Linked DNA regions of Homo sapiens. The protein of the gene in region 1 interacts with the protein of each later gene in a pairwise test. Each region holds a gene or a part of one and is shown in the gene's direction. Other genes may lie near its edges. The genes, in order: GLRX2, ELF5 and DCXR.

The links.
Region 2: the proteins of GLRX2 (region 1) and ELF5 interact in binary tests that used the Homo sapiens proteins (3 or more experiments, as listed by UniProt).
Region 3: the proteins of GLRX2 (region 1) and DCXR interact in binary tests that used the Homo sapiens proteins (3 or more experiments, as listed by UniProt).

The regions. Positions count from the first base shown.
Region 1 is NC_000001.11:193,102,391-193,109,893, reverse strand, and holds the start of GLRX2 (glutaredoxin 2 isoform 2 precursor), read left to right. Parts: upstream 1-4,479; 5' UTR 4,480-4,511; coding exon 4,512-4,630; intron 4,631-7,503. UniProt on the Homo sapiens protein: Glutathione-dependent oxidoreductase that facilitates the maintenance of mitochondrial redox homeostasis upon induction of apoptosis by oxidative stress. Involved in response to hydrogen peroxide and regulation of apoptosis caused by oxidative stress.
Region 2 is NC_000011.10:34,489,697-34,496,804, reverse strand, and holds part of ELF5 (ETS-related transcription factor Elf-5), read left to right. Parts: intron 1-3,092; coding exon 3,093-3,326; intron 3,327-6,745; coding exon 6,746-6,796; intron 6,797-7,108. UniProt on the Homo sapiens protein: Transcriptionally activator that may play a role in regulating the later stages of keratinocytes terminal differentiation. Isoform 2 binds to DNA sequences containing the consensus nucleotide core sequence GGA[AT].
Region 3 is NC_000017.11:82,035,319-82,041,931, reverse strand, and holds DCXR (L-xylulose reductase), read left to right. Parts: upstream 1-4,234; 5' UTR 4,235-4,249; coding exon 4,250-4,301; intron 4,302-4,384; coding exon 4,385-4,482; intron 4,483-4,918; coding exon 4,919-5,073; intron 5,074-5,168; coding exon 5,169-5,211; intron 5,212-5,288; coding exon 5,289-5,388; intron 5,389-5,483; coding exon 5,484-5,548; intron 5,549-5,623; coding exon 5,624-5,741; intron 5,742-5,868; coding exon 5,869-5,972; 3' UTR 5,973-6,074; downstream 6,075-6,613. UniProt on the Homo sapiens protein: Catalyzes the NADPH-dependent reduction of several pentoses, tetroses, trioses, alpha-dicarbonyl compounds and L-xylulose. Participates in the uronate cycle of glucose metabolism.

The DNA.
Region 1 (7,503 bases):
CTAGTTGGAGTCCAAAGGCCAGAAAGCTTCTGCAGAACCAAGGAGATCCAATTATCCAGTTTGAAGGCCATCAGGCAGGAAGAGCTAATGTTCAGTTCCAAGGACATCTAGCAGAACTCTTTCCTGGCTGGAGGAGGGTCATCATTTTGTCCTATTCAGACTTCCAACTGATTTGATAAAGCCTACCCACATTATGGAGGGCAATCTGCTTTACTCGGTCTTCAAATTTAAATGTTAATTTCTTTCCAAAACATCCTCACAGAAACACCTAGTGGCCAAATACTTGGGCATCCATTGTCTAGTCAAGTTGACACATAAAAGTAATCATTAAAGATATTGGGCTTTTTTTTTTTTTTTTTTTTTTTTTTTTTCAGAATTGAGTTGAGCTTGACTCAACAGTCATCTCCTAGGATAAATTGTACCTGTATTGATAATTGTTCTAAGGTGCTCCAATAATATGGGGATCTGTTGGGGCTGGGGGATGATGGTCTGATCTCAGTCTGGTTGGCTACTGGTACAGCAGAAGAATAACATGTTGAATTTCCAATAAAAAGAAGCAGCAAGCCCAATTCAATAAAAACTTCAAAGAATATCTAATAAATAGCCTTTGCGAAACCAAGAAAAGAAAGTAGAGGGCAGTAAAAGTAAGGCATATGACAGAACTAGATTTGTTGGTTTATTTGCTCTTTCAACACGGATTTTTAAATATGGAAACACAGACAAGTCATGCTTGCTTTTTTAAACCAACAAATTAAAATTGCGAACATGGCTAATTTCAAATCAGATTAAATAAAAAATTTCTGCATGGAAAGCATGTAATAGCTTTTGTCTTCTTCCTTACCACCTGGAGAGCTCTTCCCCTTCCCTTCTCCCTCTGCCCCCACCTTGTCTGCCTAACTCTTACTCTTGTTAAAACCTTAGGTTACAAGTTTCTTCCTCTGCCATTCCTTCCAAAATATCAAATTCAATTTAGGCCTTCCTCTTATGTATTATCCTAGGTTTTCATGAATGCTAGTGTCATTTCTGTGCTGTTCACTACAGTGCTTGGCACATAGTGGGCACATAAAATTTATAGAATTCAGGAACAAGAGGTTAACTATGGAATCCCATTATTTAATGGTGAGGGACTGAATATATAAATGGATAATGGGCAGAACACACATGACAATAAAACTCTGACTTCGAGCAAACAGACCAGAACAATTAGAACTTGGTTAATGACTACCAGCTTTCCAAATATGCTCCCCAAACCAGTCATATAGGATGCTTCCCTTCCAGTTGGCCTGCCTTCACGTCTTCATGCCAACAACTTTTTTTTTTTTTTGAGATGGAGTCTCACTCTGTCACCCAGGATGTAATGCAGTGGAGCCATCTTAGCTCACTGCAACCTCTGCCTCCCGGGTTCAAGCAATTCTCCTGCCTCAGCCACCAGAGTAGCTGGGAGTACAGGCATGCGCCACCACACCCAGCTAATTTTTTTTTGTATTTTTAGTAGAGACGGGGTTTCACCATATTGGCCAGGCTGGTCTCGAACTCCTGACCTTGTGATCCACCTGCCTCAGGCTCCCAAAGTGCTGGGATTACAGGCGTGAGCCACCATGCCTGGTCTGTCACTTTACTTTTAAAATGTACAACTTGATATTTTGATACATGTATATGTCTTAGTCCATTTTCTGTTGCTTATAACAGAATATCTGAAGCTGAGTAATTTGTATATAAATTGTTCTTACAGTATTGAATGCTGAGAAGTGCAAGGTCAAGAGGTCACATCTGGTAATGACCTTCTTGCTGGTGGGAACTCTGCAGATTCCCCAAGCCATGTAGGACATCATGGGACAAGGCAGCAGAGAACTCTGTTTTATAAAGCTGCCAGTTCTACTCCCATGATCACCCATTAATCCATTCATTCATGTTCCAGCTCTCATGCCCAATCATCTCTCAAAGGCCCCACCTGTCAGCACTGCCACATTGGACAGTTTCAACATAAGTGTCAGAGGGGACAAACATTCATTCCAAAGCCTGATACACTGTATAATAACTATCACAATCAAGCTAATTAACATAGCCACCACCTTTCATATTTACCATTTTTTTCTATTCCCTTTATTTTCTTCTCTCTTTTTCTTTCTTTCTTTTTTTTTCCAGACAGTCTTACTCTGTCGCTCAAGTTGGAGTGCAGTGACGCAATCTCAACTCACTGCAACCTCTGCCTCCCAGGTTCAAGCGATTCTCCTGCCTCAGCCTCCCGAGTAGCTGGGATTACAGGCGCGTGCTACCATGCTCGGCTAATTTTTGTATTTTCAGTTGAGATGGGGTTTCATCATATTGGCCAGGCTGGTCTTGAACTCCTGACCTCAGTTGATCCACCCATCTCAGCTTCCCAAAGTGCTGGGATTACAGGCGTGAGCCACCGCACCTGGCCCCATTTTCTTTCTTGTGTGCAAGTGTGAGAACACAAGATCTACCCTCTTAGCAAATTTCAAGCATACATTGCGATTTTCCTAACTATAGTCACATTGCTGTACTTTAGCTCTCTAGAACTTACCTATCTCGCATAATTGAAACTCTGTACCCTTTGACCAACATCTCCCCATTTCCACCTTCTCCCAGGCCCTGGCAACCACCGTTCTACTGTCTGCTGACATATTTCTTAACTTGCTATTGCAGTCATCACAACTATGACCAAAAATAATAATCACTTCTGTAGCTACCCCACGAAGCACAAAGAAGTTGAAAATTATCAATATATTTATTAATATATTATGCTGAATTCAGGCATAACACTTTCTTCTGAAGTACTTTACATTCTGAAATCCTTAAAAAAATCTGTCCAGTGAATTCTGTGCTTGATAATAGTCCATCTATGCTGTATTAAAATTAAATTGTAACATGATCGGTTCACCTCATAATGATCTTTATTTCATAAAACAATTTGAGATGAGGTAAAATTTGACTTCAAAACTAACATAACACCATAAATTTCCAAAATAGTTTTATAAAAAAATTAAAAAGCCCACAACACTATAGATAGATAACATACCTTAATTTTTATTTTATTTTATTTATTTATTTTTTTATGAGACGGAGTTTTGCTCTTGTTGCCCAGGCTGGAGTGCAATCGTGTGATCTTGGCTCACTGCAAACTCTGCCTCATGGATTCAAGCGATTCTCCTGCCTCAGCCTCCCGAGTAGCTGGGATTACGGGCATGCGCCACCACGCCCGGCTAATTTTGTATTTTTAGTAGAGACGGCGTTTCACCAATATTGGAGGGGCTGGTCTTGAACCCCCAACCTCAGGTGACCCGCCCGCCTCGGCTTCCTAAAGTGCTGGGATTACAGGACTGGCCACTGCGGGAGCTGCGGCAGCTGCGGCCTCTGGGTACGGGGTCAGCGGGCAGTCCTGTAATGGCCACATTACAGGACAGGCCATCGCGCCTGGCCACATGCCTTAATTTTCAAAGTCAAATTTGTCTTTAAAAAGAATGAATTCCTACCCTTTGGGGGTATTTATTTTTGCAACTAACTTCCATCCTTTTATTAAGTAATCAAACATAGCCCATTTGAATGTTGGAAAAGAACTGTCAGAAATACAAGTTCTTATTTTGTACTTTGGTAACATGAATTTTACACTTAGTTGAACATGAAGAATCAAAAAAGCTCTGGATTGTTGTAATAATTGTTTAGAATTTTAGATGTACCATTTGACCTTTGACTTTAAGATGAATTTCAGTGTCCTCAGTAAATAAAGGCTTACCCCCAACCTTAAATAGTGACGCACAAAGGCTATTATTACCACCACTGAGTGGCTTAAATAATCCTGTCAACAGCAATCGCCCATTTCCAAAGCCATGGTGAAACATCTCTGTGCTAATTTCTTTTGTTTTGTTTCCTAATTTTTTTTTTTTGGCAGGTGGTGGGAAATAATCTTTGTCTTCTTTGGAGTAAACCTTCAACACCGGATTTTTTCTTTTAATTATGGATGTAAACCCCAATATCCCCATAATTTACATTGGGTCTCGACCAATTGCCTAATTATAAGAGGATATATTTAGGCTCTTATTTCATCCACACAAAAACTTGTGTAACAGGTAGTTGGAAACATCTGAGGCACCACTTTGATTCTGTTTTGGATGGTCATGTTTTTTCTCCTCCGTTTCCCCAGCATGTCTGCCACCATCCTCATGCACTGCTTCCAAGTGCCTGGGAGCCTTTATGAGCGTCCCTAAACCTAAAAGAATCCAGAGGCGGGGCTCGGATGAACCCTCGAGATAAGCAAGTGAGCCGCTTCTCCCCTCTAAAGGATGTTTACACGTGGGTGGCACTCGCTGGAATCCAGCGCTCGGGCAGCCCTGGGAGGACGCGCTCAGCTGCGAGGAGGTGACCGGCGGCGGCGCGGGCAGTCCGGAGGGGCGGGACGGGGCGGGGCAAGGCGGGGGCCGGGCCGGAGGAGGCGGGCTCCCGGGATCCGCGGTGTCCGGCAGTAGAGCTCGCTGCAGATCCGGGCTCTGACCATGATTTGGCGCCGCGCGGCGCTGGCGGGGACGCGGCTGGTTTGGAGCAGGAGCGGCTCGGCAGGCTGGCTTGACAGGGCGGCGGGAGCTGCGGGAGCTGCGGCAGCTGCGGCCTCTGGGTACGGGGTCAGCGGGCAGGAGTGCCGCGGCGTGGTGCGCAGGCCTTGCGGGGGTCTGGAGAAAGCGGTGGGCGGAGGTGCCCCTTTGCCCCGGCGCCGGGTGGGCGAGGCGTACTAGCGCGTGGGCTCTGAGTCATAACACGCAGAGGCGCTCGAGGGATGGGCAGGGAAGGGTGCCCTCCGCGGCTGTGCTGACTTCAGGAGCCTGTGACTCTCGCGTTGAAAATACTTCACTCATGTTCACTTAGGCCATCCCTCTGTGAATTGCTACATAAAATACAAGACGCCGCAATCAATTGGAATTTCTCTGAAAGAGCGAATGATTCTTAGTCCAAGTGTGTCCCAAATACTGCAGTGGACATAGGAAAAACGGAACAGTTTTCTGGTGTTTGGTTACAATTCTAATTTGACCGGGCGTCCTGCATTCTTGTTTGCTAAACTTAGCCACCCTACTGCAGGAAGTGAAGGCGATGATTCCCGCTGAATGGCCAGAGCTTTTAGGATAGAGGCTGACTGATGGTGATGCCGCCTGCGGCTAGACCGAGGATAGTGCTTTCCTTACACTTCCTCGTTTGGAATATCAGCGGCTTCGGGACCTGCAGTGGAAGGGAACTGCGGCTGTGCTGCCCACGCCCGCGCGGCTGGTGCCTGGCGGTCCTGCCGGCTCGCACTTCCGCGCCTGCCACTGCGCACTTGGCCGGAGAGTCTGTCTCGCTATCTACTTGATCTGGGAGCTTCTATCAGTTTTGCAAGATTCTAGGAATCTCAAGTTTAACTTTCCAGACCAAGCTAGAGACCCCTCCTGAAGGGCTAATCACAGGCTGTTAAGTGTTTGACAGCTCTTTGAGGCCCCGCCGTGTTTTTTTCTGCGTATCCCTGGGGTCAATATAGCACTTTGCCTACTTAGCACACAGTAGGCGCTCCATAAATGTGGCATGACTAGGTGCTTCATCTGTGTTGAAATGAAATGTTTATTGTGCACTTACTTCCTCCGTGCATGTTTCTATTCATAGTTCGCGACAGTTTTTACCAAGGTCAACTAGAAATTGAAGGGAAAGGGTGTCTTCCAGAAACTTTTATTTGGGTAATATTTCAGAATGCACCTCCTACCTCCTCTCACTACCCAAGAAAACATTCTCTTGTGTTCTATTGGAGCTCCTTCAGTAGTAAATGCTGTAGTAGATGGTTTGGGTATGACAGTTTAAGTGCTGGACCTGAGATGAAAGGACTTGCTTTCTTAGTTGATAAACCAAATACAGCTTGCTGATTTATTCCACCAATGCTCTTCCTTAGGGCTAGGCCAGTGCTGCCTAACCTTTTCTGGTTTAGGCTTCAGGAACTCAACTTTCTTTTATCTTAAAGCTTCACCCTCCTCTCAGGTTGGCTGCAGTCTCCCTAGCTCGCTACCCTTAACTCCTTCCTGAGTTAAGCGCACAGGACTTTTTTTTTTGTTTTAAAGTGTTCCTTGCTAATACTATTAGGAAGCAAGGAATAATAGATTGTAAACATTGGGTAGGTTATAATGTTATAATGTTTAATTCCTGTCTCTTACTCTTCTTTGTTATAACTGAACAAACTGATGTTTGCTGTAGCTTCCTCACTCTAGGTGAGCTGATATCATAATCGTTCCCCCTTATCCGTGGTGGACACGTTCCAAGACCCTCGGTGGATGCCTAAAACCTCGGATAGTACTGAACCCTATACATGCTATTTTCCTATACATACTTGCCTATGATAAAGTTTAATTTATAAATTAGGCAGAGTAAGAGATTAACAACAATAATAAAAGAACAATCACTTTAATAACAAAATGCTCATTTCAAGGAATCCCTTGCTGAATCTTCTCATAGGCCCAGTGCTTTTTGGCATAACACATTGCTGTCAGTTGGAACACTTTTTCTGTTCTTGTCTCCACAAATTTAATACCTTTTCTGGCTTAACTAAGCACTTATACCTTGTGGCTGTAACTTGCAGTTTGAGGTGTGACATCAAAACTGCCATGAATTTTTTACTTCTTTACAACTGCACTGATAGAAGATCCGTTCTTACCATAGACCTTAGCAACCTCAGCGTGTGATTTTTTTTTTCCTATTAGGTGGAGAACTTTCACCGTTTCACTTAAAGGAAGCACTTTAGGGCTTCTCTTTGACGTACCTGAATTGCCAGCATCACTACTCTAGTGGTTTGGAGCCATTATTATTATTATTATTTAAGACGGAGTTTCACTCTTGTTGGAGCCATTATTAAGTAAAATAAGGGTTACTTGAACACAAGCATCACCACACTGTGACAGTCGATCTGGTCACCAAGACAGCTGTTGACTAAAGCGTGGGGAGCTTATACAGAGTCCATATGCTGGACAAAGGGAGGATTCATACCCTGGGTAGGAGGAAGCTAGATGGCTCAAGATTTCATCATGCTACTTAAAACTTACGAACTATTTTCTTCTGAAATTTTCCATGTAATGTTTTTGGACCACAGCTGACCTTGGATAACTGAAACCGTGGATAAAGGGGGACTACTGTGTAGGGCAGATGTTCATTATCCAAGGATAAGATGTACTGGAAAAAGCTATTAGAGTGGATTCACTTAAAATAAGACTAGTATTTCAGGCCAGGCGCGGTGGCTTACACCTGTAATCCCAGCACTTTGGGAGGCCGAGGTAGGTTGATCATATGAGGTCAGGAGTTCGAGACCAGCATGGTCAACATGGTGAAACCCCATCTCTACTAAAAATACAAAAAATTAGCCAGGTGTGGTGGTACATACCTGTAGTGTCAGTGACTCGGGAGTCTGAGGCAGGAGAATTGTTTGAACCTGGGAAGCGGAGATTGCAGTGAGCCAAGATCACGCCACTGCACTCCAGGCTCGGT
Region 2 (7,108 bases), on another chromosome or scaffold:
ATCTCCTCACGTGTAAAGTGGAGAGAGTGACTGTCAGTCACCTGGTCAGTCAGTCACACTCACTGAGGTAGGCCTGTGGTGGGCTAGGCCAGGCTCCAAGCACTCCTGGTTCAGGGCGAGCAAAAGCTCTAGGTCTGGAGGGGAGGGATGAGGAGGACGCCTGATGGGCACTCAGTGAGGAGGAAGAGACCTCTGCGAGGGGGAGTGAGGATGAGCAGAGATTCCTCAGGAGAAGGCAGATGGGGACCACGTTCCATCCAAAGAGAAGTCGCTGTGGGAAGACTCTGGGCCGTGGAGCCTCCTGAAAGAGAAGAGCAGGAGAGGGGCTGGTGAGGAGGGGCTGACAGCGGCGTCCCTCGTCTGGGCAGCCTCCGCTCTGCCACTCTCCTCCCGTCCTGAGGATGGGACCCCCGGAAAAGAGGCCTGCCATGGCACCCAGAGCAGCCATTTTCCTCCCAGTTCTGGGGCTTTGGAAGGAGCTTGCGGATGAGGAGAGGGAGCCTCCGCAGGGCTCTGGCTCCCCTCCAGGGGCCGAGGCCGCACACAAAGCCGCTCTGTGGGTGAGCTTCAAAGCAGAGCGCCGAGGAGCAGGGAGCCAGCGCCAGCAACACCTCCCCGGTGTGGGGCCGACTCCCCGCCTGGGCGTTTCTCCGAATCCTTGAGGCCCCCTTGGCTTCCGCAAACAATATGGCCCTCTTCAAGTGCCAAAGAAAATAACAAGGGGGTGGAAGCAGAGAGGGGAGGGGAGGGAAACGGGAACAGAGCCTTGGCGAAACCTTTCCATGAAATCAACTGTGCCCTCCGACGGCCGCACACCGATGGCCATCTAGGGCAGGGCCCGCAGCTGAAAAATGTCAAGGCTCATAAACATCTCTCACAGGACGCCAGTAAAGTCCAAAAGGCCCCTCAGGTTTACTAAAGCCAGAAATCAGTAGATGAAAGCTCAGGCCGAACTCAGGAATGGCCCCTTGTTCTGCCAGGAACCCCTGCCTGCCCTGAAGAGCCCCCACGGGCCTGGTAAGCCAGCTCCAGCCAGTGGCCAGTGAGCAAGACCTGAGTCATCGGTCTCACCGGCTCCCTGGCTCTTCCTATCTGCCAGGTAGAGGCTACGACATCAGCCTCAAGCACCCTGGCACAATATTGACGCTTTGATCTTAATGCATATAAAATTCTGAAAATTTTTAAATAAAATAAATCAACTGCCCCTCCACCCACCCTTCGGTGGTAAAAGAGATCTCTGGAAGACCTTTGAGTTTTAAGGGGAGCCTCTATTTCCTTTTTTGTGGAATAGCCCAATTACACCTACTGGATAGGATTGTTGAGGGGACCTGAGAAACTTGAGACGACAAGAACGCGTAGCGCCTCGGCTGGCTGAGGGTGCTGAGTGAGTAGTAGCACCTGACAGGCAGAGGACCCACCTCCTGCCTGGAATCATCAGCAACTGACAATGGTGCGAGTTCTACTCACCTTTAAACGCTGCAAATCGCACCACTGCTATTTGCTGTGGGGTATAACATGTGAGGGACCCTTTCTGTCATCGTCACCTTAGCCACTCTCTGCTCTCTGCCTTTCTTTTCAGGCCCTCGTGTTGTGTTCTCTCCAGCTTTCCCCGTGCCTCAGCCACTCTTCACGTTCCATCTCTGCTCTGTGCTGACCCGGTATGGTGGTGTGGGGAGAGCAATGGCTTTCAAGTTCAGGCTAGGGTTCAAATCCAGCTCTGCCACACGCTGGCGTGGGTTCTTGGGAAAGTCCTTCATGACTTTCAAGTTCCTCTTCTGTGATCTCCTGGGGGACGGGGGACCAAACCTGTCCACCATGAATCCTTAACATACAACGTGTGGCTGCACACATAGTAGATATTCAATAATAATGTTTGTAATAGCATTTAAATCCTCCAGGCTCTGTTCCAGGTACTTTTATGTATATTAAGTCATTTAATCTGCAGAACAGCACTATGATACAGGTGCTGTAATTATTCCAATTTTACCAGTAAGGAAACTAAAGCTTTTATTTATTGAATGAAATGAATAAATGAATGAATGTTTTCCATGGCAGATACAATAATTGTTTATGTCAAAGAGCCTGACCAAGTACCTAATACAGCACCTCTTCCATACCTTATGTCCACCCCACTTTCCATTTCTCCTAAGAACAGAAGGACAGAACTGTTGAACACCAAATCTCTACCCCTGGGCCAGGCAAAGCCACATGCCAGCCTCCCAGACAGATGGCACTCACAACTGTCTAGGCATGTACACGACTCCTCTAAAGGAGTGGGGGCTCTGATCTCAGGATAGAAATTACTCTGAACACCACCAAAAACACAAGAACAACAATACAACCAACTCTCCCATGACCACCTTCCTCTGGAGGTGCCTACTATGGTGACGCAAGGACTGTCAGACTCTGGGCAATGTCTAATAACCCAAGGTTCTTGGCACAAGATTGCCAGTAACTGTGCAGAAACAAATAGCCAGCATTGGGCAGCTGCCCTTTAAAGCATAGGGAATCAAAACCAGCTTCAAATGGTTTCTGACACACGGTAGGCATTTAGTAACTATTGAATTGGTTGGTAAGTTTCTGTGTGCCATTCTACATACATTAACCCCAAACTCCATAATAGTCCTGGGCATTGAGCATATTATCCCCATTTTACAGATGAGGAAACTGAGACTTCAATGTCCACAGACCTTGCCAAGCGGAAAGTGGTAGAATCAGAATTTCAACCCAGCTTGTCAAACAGCTGAGTTTGTGCTTTTGATATCATGTTATCTGGAATCAAATAACTGAAGGGCTGTTTTCTTTCTTTCTCCACTAAATGCCTTTTTTTTTGAGCATCAGCACCAAGACTGGTTCTTTCTTGCCCCTGTCATTCCCTCTATGATGCCAAAGTTCATCTGTAGGATCCAGTCCCTCTGGTTTTCTCTGCAGAATAGAAGGTGACCTGGGCTCTGCAGAACACCCAGGGCTGGAGGCCCTTTCAACTTATTGGCTGAGGAATGAGGATGTTACTTAACTGATGCATCCTTCAGGGGCCCTCTCGAAGGCTGTCTTGGGACTGTTGTCCCTCACTTCTTTCTCCTTTGGTGCAGCCTGTGACTCATACTGGACATCAGTCCACCCTGAATACTGGACTAAGCGCCATGTGTGGGAGTGGCTCCAGTTCTGCTGCGACCAGTACAAGTTGGACACCAATTGCATCTCCTTCTGCAACTTCAACATCAGTGGCCTGCAGCTGTGCAGCATGACACAGGAGGAGTTCGTCGAGGCAGCTGGCCTCTGCGGCGAGTACCTGTACTTCATCCTCCAGAACATCCGCACACAAGGTCAGTGTTCAGAGGGCCAGACCTCCAGGGGAGGGACCAGGATTAGGACCAAACAACTTTGAGAAGTCCTTTCCCATCGTGTGAATTGCACAGCAAAATTTTACTAACTGGAGTTCTCGTTAATCCAAACCTTCAATAACTGGAAGCTAGTATGCCAGAATTGGGGATTTTAGGGAAAAGGGAGCGAGTTACAAAAATGCAAATTGAGTGCATTTAAAAAAAGAGAAAGAAAAACGGACACCACGTTCAGGGACTGCCCAGGCACCAGGCTGATAATAATACAGTATATTCATAATGATTTGAAACCACACAGGATGGACAAAAAAGAGGTTTGTGCTTCATCTCTCATTAAGCAGAAGAGGAATAAAATTAAATAGACTACCTTCCCTTTTCTACAGGAGTCCAACTAATTATCATTTCATCACATTCCTAATGGTCAAGGATCAAGTGGCCAGAAGGTGGCGCCAATAGCATTATTTAACTCTTCAACAGGCCTTTTGCATGCAGAATGTCGATGAACATTTTTTCAATCCAGAAAGGTTCTTTGAGAACATCGAGCTCTAATGTCTCAAAGTCACACATAGATAAAGGAACTGATATCCTGAGACATTAAGTGACTTCCTCAAGGTCACACAGCAAACAGGGCTGATTCACAGAAAGTCAGTACAAAGCAAGGGCTTGGAGATCCGAAAGACCTGTGTTCCAACCCTGGCTCCAATACTCCGAGCTACGGAACCTCTGGCGAGTGGCTTAAGCTGTCTGAATCCCCACTGCCTCATCTGTCCAATGGGATAATGACACCTCCATGGGCTTTTTGAGAGGATTCAGGGAAATATTACCTAGAACAGCATATGAAGATGGAAATGCAGTAAATGGCAGCTGTTTTTCCATCATCATTAATATAATCAAGAGGCATATTATAGGATGTTAAAGGAAGCCTATCTCAGCTCAGTTTTAAGAAGGATCTTTTTAAAGGTTAGTACCTTCTTTTGAAAAGGTAATTCAGAAGATACAGGAGATAGGACGATCCCCACCACTGGAGATAATCAAGTAGTCTAATAGCCCCCTGCTTGAAGAGGAGGATATGACAGCGCCTCTTGTTTGCACAGAAAAACCACAGAGGACCCTCCTGCTCTGTGATTCTTTGGCCTCCTCTTGATCCTCATCCATCATGAGCGCTTGAAGGCAGAAAAGCTAAGAATGGTGGCCCTTGGGCACTACATGGCTGGGGCCCTGGGAGCCAAAACTCCAGTGACAATGACCTGCCAAGAGCTGGGATCTGTGTCCTGTGCTCAGAGTGGGCACTCCCTGAAAGAGGACAAGTTTGACCAAGTCACAACGGCTCCAGAAGAAGGAGCTTGGGACTCCATTTAGGATCCTCCCAAGGGAACAGGCTCGCACAAAAATCCTAGGGCCACAGAGAGGGGTGTATTTTATTCTGGAAAAAGATGCAGTTTGGCAATGCCAGCTTGGCCAAATGTCAAGTCAACCTCATTTGTCTCCATGCTCTTGTGCAGCCCCTGTGCTGGCATCTCCCACCACAAGCACCTCTCTTCCCTGGCAATGGTTGCATCAAAAAACAAACAAACAAAAAAAACCTGTTGGCCAGGCACAGTTGCTCAGGCCTGTAATCCCAATACTTTGGGAGGCTGAGGCAGGCAGATCATCTAAGGTCAGGAATTCGAGACAAGCCTGGCCAACATGGTGAAACCCCGTCTCTACTAAAAATACAAAATTAGACAGGCATGGTGGTGCGTGCCTATAATCCCAGTTACTCAGGAGGCTGAGGCATGAGAATCACTTGAACCCAGGAGGTGGAGGTTGCAAGTGAGCCGAGATTGCACCATTGCACTCCAGCCTGGGCAAAAAGAGCAAAATCCTGAAAAAAAAAAAAAAAACAAACCTGTCCCTGGTTTTATTACCCCAGGGCCCTGTGCAAAACTAATAGGCTAAACCTAAAAAAGCCAACTGCTTTTTAATAGGTCATACATTACCTCTTCTTATTGTAAGGAATTCCTGCAATCACAATGCCACCTTTAATGGTGGGATTTCAAGCACTCTCTAGGCCAGGAGTGTTCCATATTGAGCAGTAAAACTATCTACTCCACCAATCTACTCCATTCTGAAATTCCTCTTTTAATGTTTCTCAATCAGATATGTGGATTGTAGATTGTGGAGATATATATATTGTGATCAAAGTTCACACTGTCTCCCATTTGCCCAGGAGACATCGTTTCTGCCTGTGATCCTAGAGTAATTATTATTACCATAGCACTACCTTTCATCCTCAAAAGTGTCTCCATTTAGATCATAAATTCTACAGTTGACTGGGGGTTATTACCTCATGTATGCCTTATACTACCCCATAGGTTTTGACTCTGGCAGAACAGGACACAGAATAAGGCAGTTTTATGGAGGAGAGGAGCTGGAAGGGGGTTGTAAGGCCTCAGCACCATCCAGCTCGGTAGGTATTGCAGTAGGATTTAAGGGCCTAGCAACCTGGGGACACTGGTTGCTGGGAAGCAAGGTCAGAGGTTGGCTTCCACAGCCTAGGAGGGGAATGAGCCCCTCTTCAATCTCCCATCCTGTTCTCAGTCGGCCCTTTGGACAGAGTCAACTGAGGCGCGTGGCTGACCAAAACCAATGAGAACATGACGCCAAGAATAAAAAATCACAACTGTGCCCTGCTCCAGTCTGCTTAGCAAGTAGAGATTAGTCCTCGTGTTGGACCAAGCTAGGACATAGGTATCCTTCAGCCTAAACTGCTATGTGAAAACACAATCTCAAACTCCTCATTCAACCCCAGCCCACCCCATTCTACAGAGGAGAGAACCAAGGTCCTGACATCATCTTCCATATCCTCATTAAACTCAGCATTCACATAGAGCTTTGCACTTCTTGCAACCTCCTATGCCCATTCTCCCCACTGACCAGCACATAACAGGCATTCCAATCCCCAAGGGATTAGAGGCCATGTCAGAGACTATAGACTCTTAGCCACAGGGGAGCTTAGTGGGTATTTTATCTCGTGATGTCAATGAGAAAAACCAACAAGCCCAGAGACTGAGTGAGCAAGGCTGCACAGGGATCAGTAGCCCGGCCCAGCTCAGAGCCCAGCCCTGGACCCCAGACCAGAGCTTACTCCCCAGTGCCTGCTCAGAAAATCTGCAGAGGCTGCTGGGAAGCCTGGTTCTGGGTGCTCCCTCCAAATGACCTTTAATAATGAGGAAATTATCACCTCTCAGGGATGGCTTCAGGGTGACACTCTAAGACCAGATGGTCTCCAAGGTTCCCTCTAAATTGTAACCAACCTCAAGAGGGACAGTCACTCCACTTCCCTCCAACACCCCCTCTCCTGGCCTGGCCAGTGGAAACCAGGATTGCATGGTATGGTTTCTGGATTTCTTTTTCTTTCCCAGGTTACTCCTTTTTTAATGACGCTGAAGAAAGCAAGGCCACCATCAAAGACTGTAAGTAACCAAGCGCAAGCCACCCAAGGCTCTGTCAAGGTTGTCATTGGTACATGGGCTTGACCATTCTTTTAGGATCATACTGAAAAGCTGATGAACCAAAACAATCCCAGACCTGGAGAAAGCAGTGGGGAAAAGCGTGGTGGAAAGAGTGTGACAGAAAGAGCGTGGGTGTGGGTCTGTAGGACCATAGCTTGGGTCTATGGATTGCTTATCGTCTGAGACTCCATTCCCCTATCTGTAAAATAGTGTGACCCTTGTGGGTCGTGGTAAGTTTGAGAAATGATGCACACAAAGAGCCCAGCATGCGCC
Region 3 (6,613 bases), on another chromosome or scaffold:
CTGCCTGAGTAGCTGGGATTACAGGCACGTGCCACCACATCCAGCTGATTTTTGTATTTTTAGTAGAGACGGAGTTTCACCACGCTGGCCAGGCTGGTCTCAAACTCCTCACCTCAGGTGATCCACTGGCCTTGGCCTCCTGAAGTGCCTTTGTTCTCCTTTTTGCCCTTTGAAGCATGTGATCTCTGTGACCTACTCCCTGTTCTTGCACCCCCTCCCCTTTCAAAATCCTTAATAAAAACCTGCTGGTTTTGCGGCTCAGGCGGGCATCAGGGTCCCACCGATATGTGATGTCGCCCTGGGAGGCCCAGCTGTAAAAGTCCTCTCTTTGTACTCTTTCTCTTCATTTCTCAGCCAGCCAACACTTATGGAAAATAGAAAGAACCTACATTGAAATACTGGGGGCTGGTTCCCCCGATATCTGGCGCGCCAACGTGGCTTTTCTTTTTCCTGAGTGCATGTGGGGACCCGCTTCCCTTTGGTAGTTGTGTAGAAACGTTCATCGGTCCGGTTCACAGAAATGCTTGTTCGACTCAAAAAAAAAAACCAAAACTGACTCATATGGTTTAGTAATAGACTGGGTACCAAAGGGCTATTTAAAAAACAATTGCTCCTGTGGCGGGAGGGAATGCCTGGAGGCTACTTGTTTTATTTCTTATTGGAAGAACGAGGATCATCATTTTACTTTGTATAGGAGGTTCAGCTCTTTCTTTCCCTTAAAATGGGAAAATAAGGACATTGTCCCCCGAGGGCTCGTGTGATACTCCCCATTCTGAGCTCAGAACACCCAGAACTTTGAAAATTGGCTCTTGCCACATCCAGACTGCGAGTATGGGAAGGGGAAACTTTTCTGTCTGTTGTCCCTGCTACCGCCCCTCGCGTCCGTGATTCTGAACCCCATGATAAATCTCCTTTGAACCCTTTTCCTCTTTTTGATGCCAGTCCTCTTTTATGGGACTCCAATTGGCATTACGATAATTTTTCTCAACCCAGGTATGCCACTCTACCTCTTCAGCATCCCCGGGCACCTCAAATTGCTTTTTTTTTTTTTTTTTTTTTTGAGACGGAGTCTCGCTCTGTCGCCCAGGCTGGAGTGCAGTGGTGCGATCTCGGCTCACTGCAAGCTCCGCCTCCCGGGTTCACGCCATTCTCCTGCCCCAGCCTCCCGAGTAGCTGGGACTACAGGCGCCCGCCACCACGCCCGGCTAATTTTTTGTACCTTTAGTAGAGACGGGGTTTCACCGTGTTAGTCAGGATGGTCTCGATCTCCTGACCTCGTGATCCACCCGCCTCAGCCTCCCAAAGTGCTGGGATTACAGGGGTGAGCTACCGCGCCCGGCCCTTCAAATTGCTTTTTGACAGCGGATAACATCGGGTGTGGCCACCACTGCTCCTCTCCCTCAGTATCAGTGTAGATTCAGACATTCTGCTTTGTTCACCTCCAATGTGACTATTCCTATAGAGTTGTGTTAAGCTTCGTTATATGCTGTTAGTGGGGAATATCAAAATTTGGACGAACAATCAAACTATCCAATGTATTAATTGTCATTTATATACTTGTGTTAACTCCCGTTTTGACTCTAGGAAAAGTGTAATGTTGGTTCGAGCTCGAGAAGGAATCTGGATACTGGTAACTTTACCCAGACCTTGGGAATCTTCCAAAGCTGGGCAAGAGGGCAGAGGGCTAGGGGCCAGGATCGGGCCCTCCAGGCAGTGGTTGGGAGGGCACAGGGCACAGGGTGGGGGTAGGGGATGCCGAGGGTGCTTCTGACCAGCCAGCAGGACTCACAGGGAGCAGGGCTTGAGCCACGGATAACAGGACCAGTGAGGCCTGGTCCACTCTCCTGGGGGCACGTGCAGGCCGCTGGAGGGGTCTAAGCAGATGGGCCTTCCAGGAAGGACAGGTTGAGGGGTGTCCTTCCCTTGGCTGCTGGCAGGCAGAAAGCAGGCTCCAAGGGTAGGGGCAGAAAGCAGAGTTTACAGGGCGGCCAAGGGGGGGTTGGACTGGCCGCAGTGCCAGGTCTGATATGGACCATGCACTTGGCTGTCCTCCAGAACAAACCAGGACCTTGCCTCCTGCTGTGCCTGGCCACCCTTGCCTCCGGCCTGTCCACCTCTGTGGGCCCAAAGCCCCAGATGATCCAAAGGCCCTACAGTCACCAATTCCATACTCCTGGCCACAGAAGGTCACTCCTGGCCACAGAAGGGCAGTAGTTCTAGACTTTCCTACCATGACCCACAGAACAAAGTAGCTTTTACATGGAGGCCCAGTGTGTGGGTGCACACACACACGCATCTGTAACTGACCCCAAAGCCTCGGGAAGCAATGCTGGTCTTTGCTGGACCACCATGTACTTCCATGACCCCAATCCCTTCCTATCCTATTCAACTTCTAAAAGGTGCCCCTGGCCGGATGCTGGCTGTCCAAGGTGACCTGGGGTTCAAGTCCCTTTCAGATGAATGTAGGGTACAGCCCTATGGGGCTTAGCAGGTCTTCTCCCCGTGTGCGGAGACACGAGATTGTGAGAAATAAAGACACAAGACAAAGAGATAAAGAGAGAACAGCTGGGCCCGGGGGACCACTACCATCAAGACACGGAGACCAGTAGTGGCCCCGAATGGCTGGGCGCACTGATATTTATTGCATACAAGACAAGGAGGGCAGGGTAAGGAGGGTGAATCTTCCAAGTGATTGACAAGGTGAAGCAAGTCACGTGATCATAGGACAGGGGGCGCTTCCCTTTTAGGTAGCTGAAACAGAAAGAGAAGACCATACATCAGCGCTTTCTTCTATGTACTTATAAGAAAGATCAAAGACTTTAAGACTTTCACTATTTCTTCTACTGCTATCTACTACGAACTTCAAAGAGGAACCAGGAGTACGGGAGGAACATGGAAGTGGACAAGAAATGTGACCATTAAATCATAGCACCACAGGGAGGGGGTTAGGCCTCCGGATGACTGCGGGCAGGCCTGGATAACATCCAGCCTCCCACAAGAAGCTGGTGGAGCAGAGTGTTCCCTGACGCCTCCAAGGAAAGGAGACTCCCCTTCGCAGTCTTCTAAGTAACGGGTGGCTTCCCAGACAACGGCATTACTGCTTGACCAAGGAGCCCTCAAGCAGCCCTTATGCGGGAGTGACAGAGGGCTCACCTCTTGCCTTCTAGGTCACTTCTCACAATGTCCCTAGGTTATATTAGTAATGCAACAAAGAGTAATATTAAAAGCTAATGATTAATAATGTTTATACTAATGATTGATAATTATCCATGATCATGATCATTTTTATATCTAATTTGTATTATGACTATTTTTATTTTAACTGTTTTTTTTTTAAAGATGGAGTCTTGCTCTGTCGCCCAGGCTGGAGTGCAGTGGCGCAATCTCGGCTCACTGCAAGCTCCGCCTCCTGGGTTCGCGCCATTCTCCTGCCTCAGCCTCCTGAGTAGCTGGGACTACAGGTGCCCGCCACCGCGCCCGGCTAATTTTTTGTATTTTTAGTAGAGATGGGGTTTCACCGTGTTAGCCAGGATGGTCTCGATCTCCTGACCTCGTGATCCACCCGCCTCGGCCTCCCAAAGTGCTGGGATTACAGGCGTGAGCCACCGCTCCCGGCCTATTTTCTTTGTTATACTGAAACAGTTTGTGTCTTCAGTCTCTTGCCTTGGCATCTAGGTAATCCTTCGCCCACAGATGAAAGCGGAGCTCTGCTGACATTGGTGTCTTCTCCAGACGTAGTTGGTTGTCCAAATTCTTTCCCTTGGCTTTAAAGTGAGCCGGCGGTGTCCTGCTCCCAAGCCTGAGAGATGATGGGCACAGGCGACACTTTTTAGGACATGCCGATGTTTTCAGAAACAAAACAAGAAATGTTAGCCCTGAAATTCTCCATTTCACGTGTTCTTCCTGATATTAACCACACATTCTTTCCGATATTAACCACCACATCGTCTTTTTGCAATAATCTTGGCAGGGAAAAATATGCTAGCCAGGGTCCACTACGTCGATTTCAAGCACGGAAGATGGGTCACACCAGGCACTTCAAAAGACCCGTCCCTGAGGCAGCGGAGACCCCGCCCCGCCCCGGCGCGCCCACTCCTTTCGGCCAATCACTGCAGCGGGGAGCAGCTATTTGAATGTCCCCACCGCCTATCTGAAGGCCGCCCTGCCATTGGCCCCGCCGCGCCCCGCCCATCGTGGCCAGAGCTTCAAGTTCCGCAGCCCCAGTGCGGAGGGCGGAGACTGCGCCGACATGGAGCTGTTCCTCGCGGGCCGCCGGGTGCTGGTCACCGGGGCAGGCAAAGGTGGGCGGCGGGGAAAGGTGGGCAAAGGCCGGCGGCGGGCAGAGGCGGGCAGGGGACGCCTTCACTGAGCCCGCTCCCGGCAGGTATAGGGCGCGGCACGGTCCAGGCGCTGCACGCGACGGGCGCGCGGGTGGTGGCTGTGAGCCGGACTCAGGCGGATCTTGACAGCCTTGTCCGCGAGGTAGGTCCCGCCGGGTCCCAGCGCTGCGAGGCGGCGAGCCAGGAGGGGGCGGCAGCGAGCGGGGGCGGTACCTCTGTGCGCGACTCCGCCTCCCCTCGCGGGCGCTGCGCTTCTCACCGCGGCCTGGGCGCCCGCGCACCCTCTCTCGGGGCTGGTGGCCTGCGTGGGCGGCCGGGTGGTCGGCAGAGCCGCCGGGGCCCCCGGGCTCAGAAAGAGGCCGAAATGGCTGCGAAGCAGGCCCCGGGCAGGAGTCGCTCGGGCGCAGGGAGGAAGTGAACCGGCCGGAGGTAGCGCCCGGCTGCTGGCCCCACAGTCCCGACACCTTCGGAACTCCTAACTCCTTTACTTGTCCGGCTGAAAGGTCACCAGCCCCAGTCCCCAGCTGTGCCGCTTGCTGGGCACAGAGCCTCTGGTAACTGCCCCCTGATACACACAGTGCCCGGGGATAGAACCCGTGTGCGTGGACCTGGGTGACTGGGAGGCCACCGAGCGGGCGCTGGGCAGCGTGGGCCCCGTGGACCTGCTGGTGAACAACGCCGCTGTCGCCCTGCTGCAGCCCTTCCTGGAGGTCACCAAGGAGGCCTTTGACAGGTGAGCCTGTGAGGGCGGAGGAACCTCAGGGAGGGGCTGTCCTGGAGGACGCAGCAGCCCTAATCTCTGACCAGGGTCTGTCCCTCGGCCTCTAGATCCTTTGAGGTGAACCTGCGTGCGGTCATCCAGGTGTCGCAGGTGAGCTGCCCTGTGGGCTGGACGGGAATTCTCGTGAGTGATGCCAGCTCTGCCTCACGGTCTCGCTGCGATTCCAGATTGTGGCCAGGGGCTTAATAGCCCGGGGAGTCCCAGGGGCCATCGTGAATGTCTCCAGCCAGTGCTCCCAGCGGGCAGTAACTAACCATAGCGTCTACTGTGAGTGCCCCAGCTGTGCCCTCAGCCCCACCCCAGCCCCAGCCTCGCCCTCATCACCGACCCCAGCCCCAGCCAGCTTGGGTTCCTCTTCGTAGGCTCCACCAAGGGTGCCCTGGACATGCTGACCAAGGTGATGGCCCTAGAGCTCGGGCCCCACAAGGTGAGCAGGGCTGGGGTACCTCCCCCAACCTAGGACACCCCACTTGCCCTGCTGACCCCAGCTGTCCCGGTGTAGATCCGAGTGAATGCAGTAAACCCCACAGTGGTGATGACGTCCATGGGCCAGGCCACCTGGAGTGACCCCCACAAGGCCAAGACTATGCTGAACCGAATCCCACTTGGCAAGTTTGCTGGTGAGTCAGGTGGGAGCCCAGCCAGCGTGGTGCCAGCAGTCCCTGTGTGTGCCCTGGGTAGGGGTGGGAGGGAAAGATGGGCGGCAGCCTCCTTCCTCTATGCCCCTGACCCCCGCCCTGCCCACAGAGGTAGAGCACGTGGTGAACGCCATCCTCTTTCTGCTGAGTGACCGAAGTGGCATGACCACGGGTTCCACTTTGCCGGTGGAAGGGGGCTTCTGGGCCTGCTGAGCTCCCTCCACACACCTCAAGCCCCATGCCGTGCTCATCCTACCCCCAATCCCTCCAATAAACCTGATTCTGCTGCCCAGACTATGTGCTATTCCTAGGCTGCCAGCAGGTAGCTGGGGGCTTGGGGCCAGGTGTGGAACGCGGGCAGAGACCCATGACATTCACATTCCAATCCAAGGGGGAGCGTGGCTCCCACTCCTGAGGTTTTCAGGCCTGGCCAGTTCTCTGTCAGGGAGGTGGGAGGTGGTGAAAGGTCACCTCCCAAAGAGGGTGGTGAATTTCAGCAAGGTTGGCCTTCGGGCCTGTCCAGAACCTCTGGGGTGAGACGGTGTGTGCATGTGAGTGTTGATGGCCCCCTCTGTGAGTGTACAGTTGGCTCCTCTTCCTTCAAGCTAATGAGTAAGACAAAAGGGAAACAAGGAGAACGTCAAGCTTCTCCACTTCGTCGGTGATCTGAGCCACTTTGTTGAATCAGATGATGGTTTTCGGAAACTAGAAGAGCGTTTCCTCAACTTGTGCTATTCACAATGTAATGAGCATAGACACAGCACCCTGAAGTCTAATCTGCATTTTATCATCTGAAGTCTAGACAAGTAACCATAAGTCAAGCCTCCTCCCACCACGGCTGATTTCAAGCTACC